Linked DNA regions of Homo sapiens. The protein of the gene in region 1 purifies or fractionates together with the protein of each later gene. This does not show direct contact. Each region holds a gene or a part of one and is shown on either strand. Other genes may lie near its edges.

Region 1 (7,023 bases):
TTTGATCCTGTCATTATGATGTTAGCTGGTGATTTTGCTCATTAGTTGATGCAGTTTCTTCCTAGTCTCGATGGTCTTTACATTTTGGCATGATTTTGCAGCGGCTGGTACCGGTTGTTCCTTTCCATGTTTAGCGCTTCCTTCAGGAGCTCTTTTAGGGCAGGCCTGGTGGTGACAAAATCTGAACAGACACTTCTCAAAAGAAGACATTTATGCAGCCAAAAAACACATGAAGAAATGCTCATCATCACTGGCCATCAGAGAAATGCAAATCAAAACCACTATGAGATATCATCTCACACCAGTTAGAATGGCAATCATTAAAAAGTCAGGAAACAACAGGTGCTGGAGAGGATGTGGAGAAATAGGAACACTTTTACACTGTTGGTGGGACTGTAAACTAGTTCAACCATTGTGGAAGTCAGTGTGGTGATTCCTCAGGGATCTAGAACTAGAAATACCATTTGACCCAGCCATCCCATTACTGGGTATATACCCAAATGACTATAAATCATGCTGTCTATAAAGACACATGCACACGTATGTTTACTGCGGCACTATTCACAATAGCAAAGACTTGGAACCAACCCAAATGTCCAACAATGATAGACTGGATTAAGAAAATGTGGCACATATACACCATGGAATACTATGCAGCCATAAAAAATGATGAGTTCATGTCCTTTGTAGGGACATGGATGAAATTGGAAACCATCATTCTCAGTAAACTATCGCAAGAACAAAAAACCAAACACCGCATATTCTCACTCATAGGTGGGAATTGAACAATGAGATCACATGGACACAGGAAGGGGAATATCACACTCTGGGGACTGTGGTGGGGTCGGGGGAGGGGGGAGGGATAGCATTGGGAGATATACCTAATGCTAGATGACATGTTAGTGGGTGCAGCGCACCAGCATGGCACATGTATACATATGTAACTAACCTGCACAATGTGCACATGTACCCTAAAACTTAGAGTATAATAAAAAAAAAAAAATTAAAAAAAAAAAAAAAACTTTTGCTCAATAGAAATTAACTTGTTAGCTCCGGCCTGTATGAAATACATTAAAAATGAAATTCTTACAGCCTGCAAAGTCTTCCAAGGGGGTAAAGTTCCACATTATATCACACACATATGCATTTTTGTTTGCTTTACTGTGACTTGGATTTACTACAGAGACCTCTAATTTCTTAAATGACTTTTCACTTATCTACAGATGGAAGAATAGGACACGTAAATGCATCACTCATAATTGAGTGTTTGTAATACCTCTCACATCTTGAATCAAAATAAGAAATAAAATGCTGAAACTACAAAAAAAAAAAATACAACAAATAGGGCCAATTGATGTGAGCTGTAGCAATCATGGCAGGCTTCAAAAAGGAGGGGTGGGGTTCAGGCCGGGCATGGTGGATCATGCCTGTAATCTCAGTGCTTTCGAGGCCAAGGTGGAGCAATCATTTGAGGCCAGGGGTTCAAGGATGCGGTGACCTATGACTGTGCCGCTGTACTCCATTCTGAGTGACAGACCAAGACCCTGTCTCTTAAAAAATAAAATATGATAATAAATACACATAAAAAAGGAGGTGCAGTATGGTCTGGGCCTTGAAGGGTGAGTAGGAGTTAGAGGAATATTAGAGAGGGAGAAAACATTCCAAGCAGGAACAGGAATGGCCCATGTGGAGATGAGTCAGAAGCCGATTGGCTGTAGCAGAAGATGAGTGGTGGGATTTCCTAAGTCAGGTGGGGCCAGCTGTGAGATGGAAGGAGGAATGTTAAGGATCCAAGAGAGTGTTGTTGAGATCTGATGCAGCAAGCATTAGATTTCTGATAGGTCCTTGAATGAAGATGTGATAGGATGCGACTTGGTCATGACAGCATCAGCTCTGTACTCTAGAAAGGGTCCCTCAGGCAGGGACATTTGCTCCCCAGAGGTGGAGAAGCAGAGTGCATGAGAAGGGTTCTTACTACATTGCATTTGTACCTCAACAGCCTCCAATCTCTCTTTCAGATTGTGTACCGCGGGGATCCCTATAGTGCACACAACTCCACAGAGTTTCTCATCTACGAAAGAGGAGTCGAGGTTGGATGTTGGGGCTTGTGCATCAACTCCGTGTTTTCCTCACTTTATTCTTGTAAGTCTTTCTCTCTCCTAAGGATGTCTTCTAAAAGTTTCTGGTCTAGCACAACTTGGATTTGATATTTCTATGTGTATTTCCTACTGTTTAAAATACCAGATTCTTAATAAATCTATGGACGTCAGGAAAAACTATCACCTTAAAAAGGACCATATAAAGCATCCTTTTTTCATCATGAATTCTAGGTGTCATTTCCTCACTGATTACTTTGCTCTTGGAATCAGTGGGTTCCTGATCAAGTTTCTCTGGAAAATGAAAGGGAATCTTTACAAGATGAAGTGTTGGATGGATGAGTCCCAGCAGGTTCGTGTTCTACTGGAGCAAGATCATTGGTAGCATTTCATAGATAGGCTTATCAGATTTGTAGATGATACAGAAGAGAAGCAATATTAATATGACAGGTGACAAAGTCAGCATGCAAAATGACCTTAGCTCAGATGTGTAACTGGGTGGGTTATAGGAGCACCACACCAGGATTGGGGACAGCTGGCTTTCCTTCCCAGGTGCCAGCTTTTCTGAGCCTCTTAACCTCCACTTACCTAAGTTGCAGCTGTGAAGACACTGAACAAAGGGATTTCTGCTATTGTCTTTATGTAAGTCCAGGTGGCTGTGCTATAACTCCAGGGCATTGCACAGGCTGCATTGTACTTGCGACTGTGTATGGATATCTCCAAGCTCTGTATACATTGAGTTAAGTGAAACGTCTGGCCTGAAAAATGTATGCAGTTCTCCTAATTATAAAGAGCTCCTATAAAGAGCTCTTCTTCTGCAAGATTGTAAGAATAACTGACCCCCAATTCAGGGCTCTGGGCTTTGGACAGGTCCAGGGGACAGCAGGGATATGGCCCAGGTGAAGGAAGTGGGAAGAGATGGGGAGAATCCCTGTTACCATTCTCAGGAGGACTCACTCTGTCACTGTCAGCCTGCTTCTTGTGAAGGGAAAGTGTGGATGTATGTGAGGGCCCCTTCCCCTTCCCTTTACCTAGCCATAGCACAGCAGGAAACCTGCCTCAAGACCTCTTAAAAATTTAGCCCAATTGGGAAAATGGGACCTCATATAAACATGCAAGTTGATGAGCCCAATAATCACGTAACAACAACATTCATTATTTTAAAATTTATGATACTCAAAGAGTAGTGCTTAAAGATCACATTTATTTAGCAAACTCTTTTCTTCCTCTTCGAGTGTGCAAACTAAGAAAAAATCCAGGAGGAAGATTTCAAGCACTTAAAATAGAATAAAAGAATGTTAGACTAAAAGGGTCTAGTAAATTATCCAGCTTAAGTCCTTCATGATTTCAAGGGCTGAGGGGACTATTTACCACTACCCTCATGCTTTTTTTTGTTTTTCTTCTTTTTTTAAGACAAAGTCTCACTCTGCCACCTGAGCTGGAGTGCAGTGGCATGATCATGGCTCACTGCAGCCTCAACCTTCTGGGCTCAAGCAAGTCCCAGCCCTCTGAGTACCCGGGACCACAAGCACATGCCACTGTGCCTGGCTTATTAATTTAAAAAAAATTTTTTTTTTAGAGATGGGGTCTCCCTACATTGCCCAGGCTGGTCTCGATCTCCTGGGCTCAAGTGATCCTCCTGTCTCAGCCTCCCACAGTGCTGGGATTACAGGCATGAGGCACTACATCCAGCCCTACCTTCATCTTTGTCAGAAAGAAAAGTGTCAATCTAAACTTATTTTTCCTCAGGGAACTCCTACTAGATAACATTCCATTAGTCTTGTCCGCATAAATTTTATGGCATTTGAAACTTTAAAGCATATTATTTTTAGGTCCCTTCTAGTTAAAAGCGTTTCTAGTTACAAAAGAAATTATTAGTTGAATAGTTTTCCAAAGTTTTATTAATGTATAAATCTATGGGATCCCTACCATTGTTAATTCAAATCAACATTTTATTTATAAAATACCAGCCAGCTCTGCTCAAGGATTTTAGGGATTCCCCATGCCCATAGGATAAAGTCAAATTCCTGAGCTTTTCACAGTTTGGCCTAGTTCATACTTTGCCCTTTTTCACTCCCATATCAATTAACCACCCTCAATGACCCACTATGCAGACTTTCTCATTTCTGGGTATTTGCCACTGCTTTTAGTTTCTTCTGCCTGAACTGCTCTTTCTACTTCCCCAACTGGACAACTTCTAATAATATTTTTAGACCCAGCTTAAATATTACTTCCTCAGTGAAATCATTCAAGTTTTCTTCCCCCTGCACCTCAACCCACTCTGGGCAGAATCAATCCTTTCCTTTCCTTCCAGAGCTCACTATATTACCCTCTATTTTGGATTCATCACATAACATCAGGAGCAGATTCAGAGTTTCTATCCACATGGAGGTTGGCAGGACAATCTGGCTGCTGAGGTGGAGAGTGCTGATAGGGACTTGTTTCTAAGCTCCTTTTGTATACAGCAGGTACAGGTATACCAATTAGAACAACAACACTGAGTACTAAGATATGGCCTATTGTTCATACCATAATATCATACACTACTAGTCATAACTGGTGCTTAAATCTATAATTTCCCCTCAGTCCTGAAGAGAGGCATTGTGTGAGGATATGACTACCACTGGGTATCAGACCCATCAGAGGGCAATTCAAGCTTGGCCCTGAAGTTCACTGAATTATCTTTGTGAATAAAGTATTCTTTGCCAGACTTTCAGTCTCTGTACTGAAGTTACTTATGTTTCCAAATACCTCTTTGCCCTACTTTGCCTTCTCCTCTGCTGGCATACACACTTGGATAAGAGCATTTCCCTAATGGGTATTGATGGTATCTTTTAGGTATTGAGACACCTTAGATTACATTTTCTGTATAAATATAATTATTAAGCAAGCAGAAACTGTTCTAGCTTTATTCTCATTTTTGTATTCTCAACCTTAACAACAGTCCTCCAGTCATGGTATAAGTTTAATAGAGGAAGCAATGTTGCCTACTTGTCATTTCCAGATCTTTGTCTTCCATCAGTGTGAGAGTGTTTAGTTTCATAATTGATTCAAATGTACTGCAAATAAGGTTGCTTGTCTACAAGGTGTAAGTCCAATAATTATATGAATAGATATGGAAAATGTCATTCTTAATAGTCACGTTTCAAGTATCTGTTATTTATCCTCTGATTCTTGTGTTCCAGGAGAATGGGGCAGGGAAGAGATGAGGAATGTGTGGATTAAAAACGACTGAGGGAAGAAGATAAAAACAATTTAGAGATTTTCCTTGCCATTGTAGAAAACCTTGTAAAATGTTTTAAAGCAGAATTTTTCATTTTTAAAAATTAGTTCTGCCACTATACTGATATAAGCAAGCCAAGTTGACCTGCTAGAAGAGGAACCCAGTTAAAAGTCAACTGTCTCCAGCTCAGCCTGTCTTGTTGCTTAATTGGATGTTTTCTACATGCTAGGCATTAAGCTGGGTGATTTCATAGACACTTCATCTCACTTGATCCTGGCAACAACTCCAAAAGATGGTTTTATTATTCCCAGTTTTCAGATGAGGAAGCTGGGGTTTTGAGAAGTCAAGGAACTTGTTTACCAAGAGTTAGGGAGCCAGCGATGAGGAGATGCTGGGTGCTGTGGGAGCCCCTTACCAGTCTGGGAAGGATTGGCAAGTCAGGGAAGGTGTCTTCAGATAATTGTACATCTTTTACCTCCTTCTCAGGTGTGCAGACTCCATTCAGATGGGGGCTAAGAAATCATGAATGACTTAGATCATTCTGTAAATTTTGGTTGTTTCAATTTTCCCCAACCTGACTTTGGGTTGTAGGGCCAAGATAGGCCTGTGTTATTATTTTCGTCCTATGGGGCCACAGCCCATCTGATTTAGAATAACCCACACTTTTCTTGAAGCCCCAGGTTCCCATAGTTAGGTCAGATTTTCCACCACCTTTCTCGCTTCTTTTTGCTATCCAGCTGTCTGCTAAACAGTGCCAGATTCTTCTTTGTAGAAAAAAAATCAGCCTACCAAGGCAATTTCAAGCTGTCCTTTATGGAAAGGTCTTTAAAATGGTTCCAAAAGCCAGCTGTTTTCAACCCACAGATAAGGGGATTCTTTTGTTCCTGGCTCAGTATCAAAGGATGTCTAAAAAGGTGAATCTTCAGAAGAAAGGATTGTCTGAAATTATTAAATGTTATGAGGCACTGCCAGCTGTAATTTCTCCCTCTCTTCTTCCCACAGACTTTCAGAAAGTTTTGGTATCCTACATTGGATTAAAGGGTCTTTACTTCACGGGATATTTGCTGTTTGGCCTGGGGACGGGATTTATTGGGCTCTTCCCGAATGTCTACTCCACCCTGGTCCTGTGCAGCCTGTTTGGTGTAATGTCCAGCACCCTGTACACTGTGCCCTTTAACCTCATTACTGAGTACCACCGCGAGGAAGAAAAGGAGGTGTGCTGTCATTGAACCTCTGCCTTGGGTAACATCCAGACTCATCTGAAGGCTGGGGAGGATTTGGTAGCAATGTGTAGAGCAGAGCTGGAAAATAAGGGTTCTTGAAACAGCAACAGTCAAATGCCCAACCAACTGCAACCATGATCTGGTACAGGCATGCTCACCAGCCCAGCCCAGCCCAGCTGTCCTGTCCTCCTTATTCTCAACTCCTGCTCACTTAGGGAGCTGTAGGGCAAGAAGTGTTACTCCCATTTTTCTAATTAGAAAAAGGCTTGGTGAGGCTGAGAAACCAGCCCACAATTACACAAAGACAAAAAAAGGGGGACCCAGGTCTTCTGTAACCACCTCATAGGTCTCCCTGGTGCCACCTGCAGCATTTCTAGATACCGACAATAAGGGTCTCCCTATCCCCAACTTTCAGAGGTACATAGTGGAATTTCTTGGCATTATTTGCTGAGGGTAGGAAAGTCCTAGGCAATGGAGTCCA
Region 2 (7,456 bases), on another chromosome or scaffold:
CCATTCCTGGATTACTCATTTAAATTAATTTTTTTTGTTGTTGGCAGGCTTCTACCAGTAAGTTTCTCAAGAAAAATCCTGAGTTCATGTTTGAGAATGTCTGCTTATTGTTTTTTGCTTGAGTAATATAATACTTTTGAATCATACATTCTTTCTTCCAGCTCCACTGTCTCCTGTAGTGGAATGTTTTTGTAAAGCTGGTTGGATTCTCTCCTCCCCTGAGACCACCATCTTTTTGGTGACTTCTTTTCCTGCTTGGACACTTGAAGGCTTTTTTTCTTCTTCTTTGAAGTTGAAAAATACAACTAGCTTGTTTTTCAACTGTTCTGCATAATTTTATCTGGTATATAGTATGCTTATTAAATCTGCAGATGAATGCATCTTGTCAAGGAAAATTTTCTATGTTACAACTGAATTTCTTCTATTTCACATGTTGAGGTCTCTTTGGAAACATCAGTTAAGCTTATATTGTGTGTGTGTGTGTGTGTGTGTGTGTGTGTGTGTGTGTGTGTATGTGTGTGTGTGTTTTGAGACGGGGTCTCACTCTGTTGCCCAGGCTGGAGTGCAGTGGCATGATCTCGGCTCACTGCAACTTCCGCCCCCTGGGTTCAAGTGATTCTCCTGCCTCAGCCTCCCAAGTAGCTGGGATTACAGGCATGCACAACCATGCCCAGCTAAATTTTTTTGTATTTTTAGTAGAGATGGGGTTTCACTATGTTGGCCAGGCTGGTCTCAAACTCCTGACCTCAAGTGATCTACCCACCTCAGCCTCCCAAAGTGCTGGGATTACAGGTGTGAGCCACTGCGCCTGGCCTATATTATGTTGTCTTTGTCTTCTCTATCCAACATTTCCTCTCCATTTTCTTTCACTCTTTTGTGTCTTTTCATTGGGATTACCTGAACCTTTTGCCCTATGCCAGTAACTGAATTTTCTGGCATGCCTGTTTTGTTCCTTGTTTGGAATTACATTTATTGACTCTCTAGTGATGTGTTTGGTTCAAATTTTGTTTCTTTTGCTCTGCAATATCCTTTTTCAAATCTTCCTAATTGTTTATTATTTTTCTATTCTTATCAAGGTCTTCTATAGCTGGAAGGACTTGTAGGTTGTATTTGCTTCTAGATTTACATCTTTTGTGTACTAACTCTGTCCAGACTGTCTAATATGATGTAGGTGAATTCGCCTTGACTTCATTGTACCTTGTCTAGGTCTAGTTTTTTTATTATTAAGGTTGGAAGAGTAAATTATGGAAGACTTGGGCGTGTAACTGTTGAACCCGTCCATTGGATAATGTATTTATGACACTGTAGCTTCAACAAAATGAAGCTACAACCCATATGTATATGTATATATGTGGATTTGTAATTAGGACTTGAACATATGAAATATTGATAATTATGTGTTTTCTCCCTAATTTGGTGTTATAATTTGTAAACTTTGAATCTAATTTCAGAATTTAAACTAACCAAGCTGACACATTTTAACAGGATAGAGTGAAGAAAGAACATTCTCATTCTTCCTTCTATGCTGATGGTACAAGAAAGTCCTGGAATCCTAAGGATCTAGGAAAAATCAACTTGAGAAGTTTCTATGTGGTAAGAAAAGCTATGATGTGTCTTGCCCTTTTCTCATCTACCATATTGAAATTGAATGTACAGTTCTGTATACGGTTCAGAGTTCTTAAAGATGTAGAAATGATGAGAACATAACAAAAGGTATTCTTTAGTATTCTCAACTTTCCCTGTGCTCTACTTCTTCCAAACGCAAGGCTAAAGACGCTTTAAAAAATGAGATTGTGACAAAATGCTAACTACGACATATTCAGACATTCCAAAACCTGAAAGTGGATCTGAAGCCAGCAGATTCACTACTCACTGTTCTTAGGTTTTGGCATTTTTCTGTCTACCTTCTCTCAACTAAACCTTCATGACGGTTTTTCCTGTAAGGACAATTACAATAAGATACACTCCCTTCCCCATCTTAACTCAGATTATTATGATGCTATTTCTGCATTTTTGTATCATGTGATGGTGGTTTCTTTGTGGTATATGACAAAAATGCCCTTCTTCTTGACTCCACAGGAAGAAAACTGGCTATTAGCTTGGGACTTCAGCAAGGCACTTAGCAAGGTCTCTCATAATATCCTGTGGTCAAGAAGAAAAATATAGGCTGGATGACTGTACAATTAACATGATTCATAGCTGGCTGGAACAACTTATGCCAAAAAGTGCCAATTAATGGACGGATATCAAACTGAAGGAGCTCTCCAGATGTTCTACAGCAATTTGCCTCTTGCCCAGTGGTGCCTGGTACCTATTATCAATAACTTGGATAAATATATAGAATAGTTATCAAATATATGGGTAAGATCCAAGTGCATTACAGCACAGAATCAGGACCCAAAATAATAAAACAGGCTGAACTAATGGGCCAAATCCAATGAGATAAAGTTTAAGTAGGATAATATAAAGTTCTGTACTTTGGTCCAAAAAATCCCCACTACTCAAGTATAGGGTACACAAAATTTTGTTATATAGATGGCAGCATATAGATGTAGCTGTTAAAATAAGTCCATTAAATGTTAGGCAGCATTATAAGCAGTAGCTATCTATTGAGTAGTAGAAAGAACATTGGATTTGGCATTAGAAAACTGGGTCAAATCCCAGTTCTGACAGTTTGGCCCTTAAACTCTTTGATCCTTGCTTTCTTCTCAGGGTGGTTGTGAAGTTAAAATGAGTTAACATGTCTTTTGAGTTAACAAGTCTAATTTCCAAGCACTTGTGCTCAATAAATATGACCTAGAAAAATTACCATTCACAATAATATAAGTGGCTGTGCCACTCCATTTTGTCCTAGAAAAGATGGTACTTGGAATGAGAGGGGCCACACTCAAAAGCAAACCAGAGCTACTTCTAAAGTTAGTGACTAGGATGGATGAGCGACTCAAAAGAGAACATGAAGAATGGCTACAGGAACTGGGGATAACTGACTTGAAGAACAGTAGACTTAAGGAGACCATATCTACCTTCAAACATCTGATGGTGTGCTTCATGGCCTTCTGTAGAGCTCCAAAAGATAGAAGAACACTGGAGAACGGAAAATAGAAGAATGTAGGCAAGGGCGACCACTTGGTGGGGATGTTGTGAGCGATTTCAGCACAAGTGGATGGTTGGACTACATGGCCTTTAACACGAGAGTCTGACTGTCATATTTCTAGGACATTTTTCATGAAATGGATCCTTCTAAGTCTGTCTCAAAATAATCCAGGATCTCTGCTATCTTGGGTTGGGCTGGCTTCTTGCCTTAAAATATCATCTTTCTTCCAGTTCTAGGCCAGATCTCTTCTTTATCCAGTCTGACTTTCTTGCACCAGTTTACTCTTGCTGACTACTTTGTTCAGGAATTTCTGGTCACTTTTAAAATGTCATTCCCCCCCCCCAAAAAAAAACTATCCAAGGGACACAGTACAAGGATAATTTGTGGACATTTTTGGGGAGATGAGCCAGCAAAGCATGCTTTCCAGGTTGCTTAATTAAAAGAGTGGGAATTAAGAACCAGAATTTAAGAGTTCCGGCAGGGCGCTGGTGGCTTACGCCTGTAATCCCAGCACTTTGGGAGGCCGAGGCGGGCGGATCAAGAGGTCAAGAGATCGAGACCATCCTGGCCAACATGGTGAAACCCCGTCTCTACTAAAAATATAAAAATTAGCTGGGCGTGGTGGTGCGCGCCTGTAGTCCAAGCTACTGGAGAGGCTGAGGCAGGAGAATCACTTGAACCCGGGAGGCAGAGGTTGAAGTGAGCCGAGATTGCTCCACTGCACTCCAGCCTGGCGACAGTGCGAGACTCCGTCTCAAAAAAAAACAAAACAAAAAAAAAGAGATCCAGAATTCCAGAATTGCAACTGTGAACCAAGAAGTGGGGATGGGTACCTCAGACAAGGCTTTTACCGGAAATTTAGCATATAGGATAGAAAGCAGAGACCAAAGACCTCTTGCTTTGAGGCTGTTGGCGTGCTACAAGGACTCGAAAGTTATTTGTTCAACGGATGACTTCTGTTTTCTGGAGGCAAACTGAATTCCGGGCAGGTGGCTCAGCACCTCCAGCCTGTTCCAGATCGGGACAGGGAAGGTGCCTGGGGCAATCAGTGAGGTTTCCAACCTTCCTTAGGCCTGGGCCAGCCCGCTCCCCTCCCATGTGACCCCAGGCAACCATTTTAATTTTTTTACAGCCAAGCGTAGTGGAGAACTGGCTGCGCGCCGGTTGCCAGGGACGCGGCAGCCAGCTTGGCGGGGCTGGGGTGAAAGAGGACGCTGCGTGGGGGAGGGCTCCGCGGCTTCTGACTGGCTGGAGCATCAGGATTCATTTGCATAATATTTTCTGACGGCTTCTGATTGGCTGAAGCCAGAGGGGCGGTGGTGGGGTGATTCCAAGGGCCCAGAGCTCTGGCCGGCGGACCTTTTCCTTCTGGAGTTTCCCCGGCGGGTGTGAGTTGTTGCGGGGTCTGGGGGAGCTGGGAGGCCCGGTTTGGGAAGTTTTGCAGGCAGGTGCATGAGCCATCTTTCTCTGAAAGTGTTTAAGAAATGTTCAAGAACAGCGGCCAGAGTCAAGAAACTGGGGGATGAAGGGTTATCTCGAGACTAGACGGAAGGAAACGTATCAGGGGAGGGGTGGAGGCCAGAAGGAAGGAGTTAGGTAGGGGCCCTCTCCCAAGCTGGCGTTTTTGCTGGGTGGAATCCTTTTGCTAGATCCCTTGGATTTCCGTTTTCCGTGTGTTATCACACTGTTGGAACTGGGAAGAAGAGAAAAAGAGGCAAGATTTTGGCATTTAGTAAGTTAAGTCTGAATACCGAGTTTTCATCCGGGTGCATACGTACTTAAAATACCAAATGGGTCCAGGAAGGGGGACAAAGTACGCTTTAATTTATGAGAAGATCAGCTACTAGAAACTGTATATCTGTTTTTCTCGAGTTTTCTTCTTGCAGTGCTCTTTCAATCTCATTGGACATATTTTATATTATTTTCCTGCTTAAGCACTGGGGGTTGGGTGGAAGGATCTGTGGCTCATCATAGGCAATTTCCACACTTTTAAGGTTTCTGACTCTTCACATAAACACCTCTCACTATGATGAGGTCCTGTATCAAGTACAATTAATCTTTGTACTTTACAATTTACATAGTGATTTTTATTTACATTATCATATTTAAACTTAATCAAAGTCCTTGGCACGGCCCATGGAACAAGCTCCATTTTTTTGATAAAGAAACTGAGGCTAGAAAAGTTTCTATGTGTGCAGAGAAGGAAGGTGAAATTATTTTAATGCTTCAAAGTTATATAATGCTTCCTGCCTCCCTGTATTTTTCTTTCCATTGATCTTCCTTCAAAACCCTGATAGGTCTATCCCAGTTTTGCAAGTAAGAAAACATGGGCTGTGATGTAGAGCTAATACGTTTTGGGGTAGTGGGTCCTCAGACTTAGGTCTGTCTCCAAGGGTCACTGACTTTGTTTTGTTTTGTTTGTTTTTTGTCAACAGATTAGTCCTTGTGGCACCAAGTCAGAATTTCATTCAAAAGACAATTAGGAAGATGGTTTTCTATGGAAAATATTTAAGTGTAGGTCTTAATGTGAAAGAAAGAGGGAGAGAAAGAAACCCCTTTATTATGTTCTCCCTTCCTTAGGCATTTTTTGTCCCGTGGGAAAAAACTGTACTAGGGACAGAGACCTCTGTTAAGTTTTAGAGAAAAGGGATCTTTTTTTTTTTTATTTGAGACAGAGTCTTGCTCTGTCGCCCAGGCTGGAGTGCAGTGGCACGATCTCGGCTCACTGCAACTCCGCCTCCTGGGTTCAAGCAATTCTCCTGCTTCATCCTCCCGAGTAGCTGGGATTACAGGCGCTGGCCACCACGCCCGGCTAATTTTTGTATTTTTAGTAGAGACCGGGTTTCACCATGTTGGCCAGGCTAGTCTGGAACCCCTGACTTTGTGATCCGCCCGCCTCGGCCTCCCAAAGTGCTGGGATTACAGGCGTGAGCCACCGTTTCAGGCCGAGAAAAGGGATTTAAAATGAGAAGCTTGAATCTTATTGAACATAATTGTAGGACTGCCAGAGAGGACTGGTGGATGAGGAATATGGCAAGGGACATGAGATGGGAAAAATTAAATAGGCTGTGGTTTGGAAGTCTCAAAGTGAAATTCAAGGTGCAAGGCTCTTAAAAGTTAAATCCAGCGATTCGGTACATAGCTTAGGCCCTATTAAATGACCCAGTGCTTTAAGAACTATCTTTTGAAAGGAACACTTCACACAAGCACCCTCAAAAATAATTAGACACCTCCCCATTTCTCTGTTAAATGGTGAAAGACACCCAAGACTAGACCTAACTACTGTCACCCTCTCCTGGCCTCTTGGCAGCCAAAAGGCCACATGGCCCAGGCTCTCCAGCATCACTGTGTAGCCGACTTGGACAAAAATGGACTTCTCCCCATTGCCACTTGCAGATCTCTTCAAAGAATCAGCAGATCTGATAGTGTGCCCCTCTTCATCCCCGGCAACCACTGTTAAAGGAAAGATTGGGAAAGATCCCACCCCGCCAGGAGGGAGGCAAAAGCCTCTGACGCTCCCCTCCCCCCATAGCTGACCAAGGCCAGGGCCACTGCGGGAGCACCGCGCGTCCACGTGCACCCAGCATGCCCGGTCACCCTTTATTACGTAAGAGTCCCAGGATGGAGTTGTACCTGCTGCCGGCCCCTCTTCCCCGACGGCTAATAATAAACCCGGGTTCCTGTTTCCCGGCCGCGGCCACTCCAGATTCGGGGCTGAGGGGCTCACTCTGCAACCAAGGCACGTGCATTCTGGTCATCCCACGCGGGGAGCGCGCGCAAGGCCCGCCCAGCCCCCACATGCCAGCCCCACCCTCCAGTCGGTCCGGACGCCGACGCCTTTTTGACCCTCGCTGTGCCCGGCCCTCCTCATCTGGCCTGCCCAGGGCTTGGTGCTGGCGGGGTCCAGCTGCTCCAATCCCTCCTCCTCTGCTCTGCCCTGCCCTGCCCTGGCCTGCCCCGGCGCCCTCCCTCAGCCCGGGTATCAGGCGAGAGGCGGAGCTGGCCCGGCGCGCCCCGCCCCCGCTGTAGAAAGGGCCGGGCGAGTGTTACTCGCGGTCATCCCGGCCTGGGCCTTTTATCTCGGTGCTGCCGGGGGAGGCGGGAGGAGGAGACACCAGGGGTGGCCCTGAGCGCCGGCGACACCTTTCCTGGACTATAAATTGAGCACCTGGGATGGGTAGGGGGCCAACGCAGTCACCGCCGTCCGCAGTCACAGTCCAGCCACTGACCGCAGCAGCGCCCTTGCGTAGCAGCCGCTTGCAGCGAGAACACTGAATTGCCAACGAGCAGGAGAGTCTCAAGGCGCAAGAGGAGGTGGGTGCCCACGCCCCATCGCTGCCCCGGCCAGCTTGGTTGCTTGAG

What was found. Proteins that work in one complex are often made in the same cells at the same time.
Region 2: the proteins of SLC45A2 (region 1) and MID1IP1 purify together in Homo sapiens (affinity purification with mass spectrometry; 2 studies listed by BioGRID and IntAct, with this or other methods). This does not show direct contact.

What each region holds. Positions count from the first base shown.
Region 1 is NC_000005.10:33,946,673-33,953,695, reverse strand, and holds part of SLC45A2 (membrane-associated transporter protein), read left to right. Parts: intron 1-2,018; coding exon 2,019-2,142; exon of another isoform or gene 2,143-2,324; intron 2,325-6,321; coding exon 6,322-6,533; coding exon of another isoform or gene 6,534-6,548; exon of another isoform or gene 6,549-7,023. UniProt on the Homo sapiens protein: Proton-associated glucose and sucrose transporter. May be able to transport also fructose. Expressed at a late melanosome maturation stage where functions as proton/glucose exporter which increase lumenal pH by decreasing glycolysis.
Region 2 is NC_000023.11:38,797,006-38,804,461, forward strand, and holds the start of MID1IP1 (mid1-interacting protein 1), read left to right. Parts: upstream 1-4,453; 5' UTR 4,454-4,482; exon of another isoform or gene 4,483-4,787; intron 4,788-5,529; 5' UTR 5,530-7,408; intron 7,409-7,456. UniProt on the Homo sapiens protein: Plays a role in the regulation of lipogenesis in liver. Up-regulates ACACA enzyme activity. Required for efficient lipid biosynthesis, including triacylglycerol, diacylglycerol and phospholipid. Involved in stabilization of microtubules.